Linked DNA regions of Homo sapiens: region 1 is linked to region 2. The links come from fine-mapping of genetic effects on gene expression. A gene starts in region 2. The other region holds a variant in brackets. All regions are shown on one strand. Distances are from middle to middle.

Region 1 (2,899 bases), 43 kb before region 2:
TCCCTCCTCTTTCTACTTTCAGAGAACACAGGGTTCCTGCAGGAAATGGGGCAGTTTCACCTTCCTGAGGAGGGGCCTGGGAGGGGCAGCAGGTGGCCGGGTAGGGCCAGCCCAGCTGTGAGCCTGGCGTGGGAGCTGCCTAGGCCGGGCCCTGCCAGGGAGCAAGTCTGCATCGCAGAGGCCAGGGTGAGTGGGCTGGGGAGTCGGTGCGCCAGGGTACTGGGGTGCCCACCTGGGGTGGTGCAGGCCCGGGGACCCCAGGGCACCACTGTGGGTGGAAGCTGGGACCAGGCGTGCGGGGCAGGGGACGCGGCGGCTTCCTGGGATTCTAGGAGGCTGAGGCCAGGTGTGTGCGGCAGGGGACGGGGCGGCTTCCTGGGATTCTAGGAGGCTGGGACCAGGTGTGTGGGGCAGGGGACGAGGCAGCTTCCTGGGATTCTAGGAGGCTGGCACCAGGTGTGTGGGGCAGGGGACGCGGCTGCTTCCTGGGATTCTAGGAAACTGGGGCCAGGTGTGTGGGGCAGGGGACGCGGCTGCTTCCTGGGATTCTAGGAAACTGGGGCCAGGTGTGTGGGGCAGGGGACGCGGCGGCTTCCTGGGACTCAAGGAGGTGGGAGAGCTGCTCTCAGACCCGCCGCTGTCCTCCCACTGGCCCTCCCCGTGGTCCCTAGGATGAGGTCTGGACCCGCCAGGCCCTCCAGAGGCCCCACAACCCCGCTTGTCCACTGTGCCGGCTGTTCCTTCCTTGTGGCGCCCAGTGCGGTCCTAGGCACCCTTGGGACTCAGCTCACGTACCCCTTCCTCCAGGAAGAGTTCTCAGAGGCTGTGTGAGGAGCGCCGAGTCCCCGGACTTACTCTCTGTTCTGGAATTCTCTGCGCAGTCATCTGCCTTCCCGCCCAGCTAAGAGCAGGGCCTGTTGTCCGGCCCCACAATTTCCTTCCAGGTGGAAAGGATTTGCTGAATGAAAATCAAAGCTGTGGCCGGGCGCGGTGGCTCACGCCTGTAATCCCCACACTGTGGGAGGCCGAGGTGGGCAGATCATGAGGTCAGGAGATCGAGACCATCCTGGCTAACACGGTGAAACCCCGTCTCTAATAAAAAATACAAAAAATTAGCCGGGCGTGGTGGCGGGCGCCTGTAGTCCCAGCTACTCGGGAGGCTGAAGCAGGAGAATGGCGTGAACCCGGGAGGCGGAGGTTGCGGTGAGCTGAGATCGTGCCACTGCACTCCAGCCTGAGTGACAGAGCGAGACTCCGTATCCAAAAAAATAAAAGAAAAATCTTCTCCCCGGGTAGGGTGCGGGGAGCTTCAGGGTTATCACAGGACATGCTAGAGAGAAAGCCTTGGGCACAGGCGGAAGTTGGAGTCTGGAGCTGCGGCTGGGCTAGCGAAGGGCAGAACCTACTTCGGCCAATGGCTCTTACACAGCCAAGCTATTTTCATGGTGAGGGTCTAGTAGCCTCCACATCTCTTGGCGAATTCTTGCTGATTGGCGTCTGACCCCATGGAGAAGCTCAGTGGGTGTCATGGGTGGAAGGGGGCATCTAGGGCCTCCAAACGTGGAAGTGTCTCTAAAATACCTCCCGCTGGGCCTCAGTCTCCTTGT[C/G]GACAAAAGGTCAGCTTTGACAAATCTCCAGTCGGAGGCCAGGAGCAGACGGGGAGGGTCCCTCAGTCCCTGCTTGCAGCTTCAGGGGGACGTAGGCTGCGGTGGACGGACACTGAGCCCCAAAGCGGCCTCTCAGAGCCGCCCCTGAGGGGTGGCCTCACAGGTCGGGCTGAGGCTCCCAGCTCCCACTGGGTACAGAGCGGGCAGGCGGGCCTGGCAGGGCAGTGGTGCTGGTCTACACGCAGCTCTGGAGTCTCTGGACCTGTGTCCTGTGCGTACATCCTGGCTCCATCTCCCATGAGCCAGGGGGCTGGACCTGTCTTCTCTACCTCAGTTTCCAAGAGTAGGAGACAGGGGTAACAGCAGCCTTGCTCTCAGGGGTGAGGGCGTGGGTTAAAGGGCAGGACACCCATGGAAGCAGTGGTGGCTCCGAGCACCTGCTCAGCCTTCCCAGGTCTTCAGAGCCCACAGGCAGAGCCCACCCTGAGGGAGGAGCAGCTGGTTCTTGGGTGAAGTGAGCCCCCAGGACCCCGCCTTGCAGGACCCCGCGAGGCCCCGGTGAACTGGAGCCGGGAACCGGCCCCACGGAGGCACGTTGGGATTTGGCCACCAGAGGGCAGGAGCTGCAGCAGCCAGGCAGGCGGTCAACACGGGGGCCCCGGGGTCCTGGCCGGCTGGTGGGGTGTGAATTGGAGAGGAGTGGGCTGTGTGGAGGGAGACCAAGCACCAAGGCCCGCCCTGGCCTCTGAGTGTCCACCCCTTTCACAGGCCCATTTCACAGATACTGAGGCCCAAAGGCGCAGGGCTCAGGCGTCCCCTACGTGTCGTGTCCCCAGGCAGGAGAATTACTTGAACCTGGGAGGCAGAGGTTTCAGTGAGCTGAGATCACACCACTGCACTCCAGCCTGGGTGACAGAGCAAGACTTCATCTCAAAAAAAAAACACAAAAAGTGAATTTAAAATGCTCCCTGAACTCCAGCTGGGGTGCGCAGCAGGAGGCTGGGTCCGTGGGGCTTCGGGGGCTGGGCTGGGGGTTCAGGTGGGTGGGGGAGTCAGTGCTGTGGGGATAGGGCTCAGAGCCCAGAAACAGACAAGCCCACACAGGTAGCCAGTGTCGACGAAACAGGAGAGGCTGGGACCTGTGCCCTGGAAGGACACAGCCAGCGGGTCCTGGGTCACCCACTCCGGGGCTGACCGGGCACAGTTTCACAGAGCAGTATGGCCCAGCCAGCTGTGAGAGGATCGGACAGACGGGCGGAAAGGAGGGGAGACAGCGGGTGTGCTCGGGGCTG
Region 2 (2,861 bases):
TTCTTTGGTATCCCTGAGCACACAGCCGGCTAGCCCCAGATGTAGAAGGTAAGAATTAGGGCGACCCATTGAGCACAGAAACGCTTGTGCTGGCTCCTGCTCAAACCTCTGCTTCCCCACATGGAGAATGGACGCAAAGAGCTGCTGTGACCAGGGCCTGGCACTCAGGGAGCGCTTTCTGTCTGAGTCCTTCTGATTTGCAGTGATGCTGTTTGGGGCAGGGGGTGCAACTGTCACTTTTTCTGGTGCCCTCTGACCCGACATTCCAAGTCCCGAAAGGCCGAACAGGCATCGCACAGTCCCCCCTACCGAGCTGGCGGGAAAGGGCGCCTGACGCTGAGGAGTGCCAGGGGCGGGGGAAAGGGTCCTGGGTCGGTGGTCGGGGGTCCAGGCCCTGGGCAAGGGGTCCTGGGTCGGGAGTCTAGGTCCCGGGTCCATGGTTGGGGGTCAGAGGTCGAGGCCCCGGGGAAGGCATACCGGGTTGAGATTTGGGGATGGAGGCCCCGGGGAAGGGGTCCCGAATCGGGGGTCGGGGATCGAGGCCTGGGGGGAGGGGTCCCGGGTCGAGGGTCGAGGCCCGGGGTAAAGGATCTCGGGTTGGGGGTCGGGGGCCTGGGAAGGGTCCCGGTCGGTGGTCGGGGGTCGAGGCCCGGGAGAAGGGGTCCCGGGTCGGTGGTAGAGGCCCTGGGGAAGGGGTTCCGGGTCGGGGATCGAGGGTCGAGGCCCGGGAAAAGGGGTCCCGGGTTGGTGGTCTAGGCCCTGGGGAAGGGGTTCCGGGTCGGGTATCGGGGGACGAGGCTCGGGAAAAGGGGTCCCAGGTCGGTGGTCGAGGCCCTGGGGATGGGGTCCGGGTCGGGGATCGGGGGACGACGACCGGGAAAAGGGGTCCCAGGTCGGTGGTCGAGGCCCTGGGGATGGGGTCCCGGGGGATCGACGGTCGAGGCCCGAGCTCTCCTGAGTCCTGCCCGCGGCCCCAGGTGGGCGGAGCCCACGCCAGTGGGAGAAGCGGCCCCGCCCCGCGCGCGAGTCCCCGGAGGACGGCCGCGACCTCTTACCGTCCATGGCCACAATGACAGGAGCAGCACTCGGAGAGGGAGAAGGGACGCCAACTCCGGGCGGTGTCAGGTCCCGGCGGCGATCGAACCGACCAAGCTGCACCCGGCGGGGACTTCCGGGGTCGCCGCCCCACTTCCGGTCGCACGGGATGCTCTCGCGAGAGGATGGTGGCCGGTCCCGCCAGAGGGGCGGGGCGCGGCTGCGCGGCGCGCGGTCGCCATGGTGACGCACGCCGCTGGCGCGAGGACCTTTTGTGAGTCGCTCCCGGCTCCGCGGCCGCGGAGGTGTGGGGACCCGGGCTTGCGTCGGAGGGGGCGGTGGGCTCACCCATGGGCCTTTCCAAAAGCAAAGAGAAACCCAGGAAAGGTAAAGGAGGCGCAGGCGCTGGGCTCCCCGCGTCTCCGCCCCTGGGCGCGGGCCCAGGGCGGGGCTGGGCTGGGCGGGGCGGTGTGAGCGCAGGCGCCAGGCTCGGCCCGGTGCGAACCGTTCCTGCCGCCGAGTCCGCCACGGACGGCGCGTTTCCCGCCTGAGGCGGTTACGGAAACGCGGAGACTCGAGACTTGAAGCCAGCTTATTCTGGACCCACGCAGGCGACTGAAGACGATGGGACCCACTGCCCTGCATTCGGTAAGTCCCGGGTCTAACGGATGATCCATATATTTCAGGTGAGGAGCAAAAGAAGGGATCCACCTATTCAGTTCCAAAATCTAAGGAGAAGTTGATGGAGAAGCATTCCCAGGAAGCCAGGCAGGCAGACAGGGAGTCGGAGAAGCCTGTGGACAGCCTCCACCCGGGGGCCGGGACAGCCAAGCACCCGCCGCCGGCAGCTTCGCTGGAAGGTAGGAGACGGCGGGAGGGAGCGAAGCGAGGTCAGTGGCTTGGAGGATCTGGGGCTGGGGTGAGGAGCCTACTGTAAGACCCTACCGGATGGACACTAGTAGCAGGCACGCGCCGTAAAGATGAAACTGGTTTGTTTTGGGAACTTTATGTAGGAGGTAAATATCCAGAAATCTTAGTTGAAAACATAAGTTTAATGAAAATGTAGGTCAGTTCCCGAGTGATAAGTGCGTACCAGGTGGTCGAGGGGCTGGGGCAGTGTGCGTGTGTCTCACCTGAGGTTCTCCTCGAGGGCTGGGTATCTTGGTGCCACTGAGAATCCCTGAGCCTCCGCACACTGGAACAGAGCATTGGGAGGCCGTCCCAGGCTGGACTGTAGCTCTCCGAGGGCTGTGGGGATAAGTACATTGCGGAGGGTGACCGAGGAGTAGAACCTGGGTGCGACAAAGGTGTCTTTTATAACAGCCTAGTGTGGCCAGACCTTTGGGTGTGTGTGGGGAAGATGAGGCCCCAAAAGTAGGAAGAAGCTAGAATACAAAGTTTTCCATCAGTTTTACCACGTGGAGCTGGAAGCGTTAAATATTTTAAACAACGGAGGTGCTGCCTGGGGCGGTAGTTCACACCTGTCCTCCCAGTTATTTGGCCGAGGCAGGAGGATCTTTTGAGCCCAGGAGTTCAAGACCAGCTTGGGCAACATAGTGAGACCCTGTCTCTACAAAAAATAAATATTTAAAAATAAAAAACAAGGGCGGCATGATGAGGTCTGTGCCTACCAACAGGGGAAGCCAGTTCGCAGGGGAGGTGGCCCGGTCAGAGACCCATTGCTGTGGCCCAGTGGGAGCCAGCAAGGCCTTGCAGTAGGAATTGCAGAAGGGTCAGGCAGGGAGAACCCGCAGAGCCTGCCGTCCGAGGAGATTGGGGGCCTGTGCCAGGAGGAGGTGTTTTAAGTTTCATCACAAGAATGAACC

The links. PIP is the estimated chance that this variant, and not a neighbour inherited with it, causes the effect.
Region 1: its variant is fine-mapped to the expression of SPATA33 in ileum (GTEx, PIP 0.97).

What each region holds. Positions count from the first base shown.
Region 1 is chr16:89,613,534-89,616,432 of GRCh38, forward strand. DPEP1 (dipeptidase 1) reads left to right here and starts at 109. Exons shown (of 11, transcript NM_001389466.1): 1 at 109-186. RefSeq lists enhancers at 1,273-1,977, 1,978-2,680. The variant C/G (reference allele first, on the strand shown) is at 1,608.
Region 2 is chr16:89,656,527-89,659,387 of GRCh38, forward strand. It overlaps SPATA33 (spermatogenesis associated 33), which reads left to right and starts at 1,310. Exons shown (of 3, transcript NM_001271907.2): 1 at 1,310-1,422; 2 at 1,722-1,895. The coding sequence starts at 1,386. It overlaps CHMP1A (charged multivesicular body protein 1A), which reads right to left and starts at 1,182. Exons shown (of 7, transcript NM_002768.5): 1 at 1,056-1,182. The coding sequence starts at 1,062. RefSeq lists silencers at 909-968, 1,189-1,578 and an enhancer at 1,294-1,463.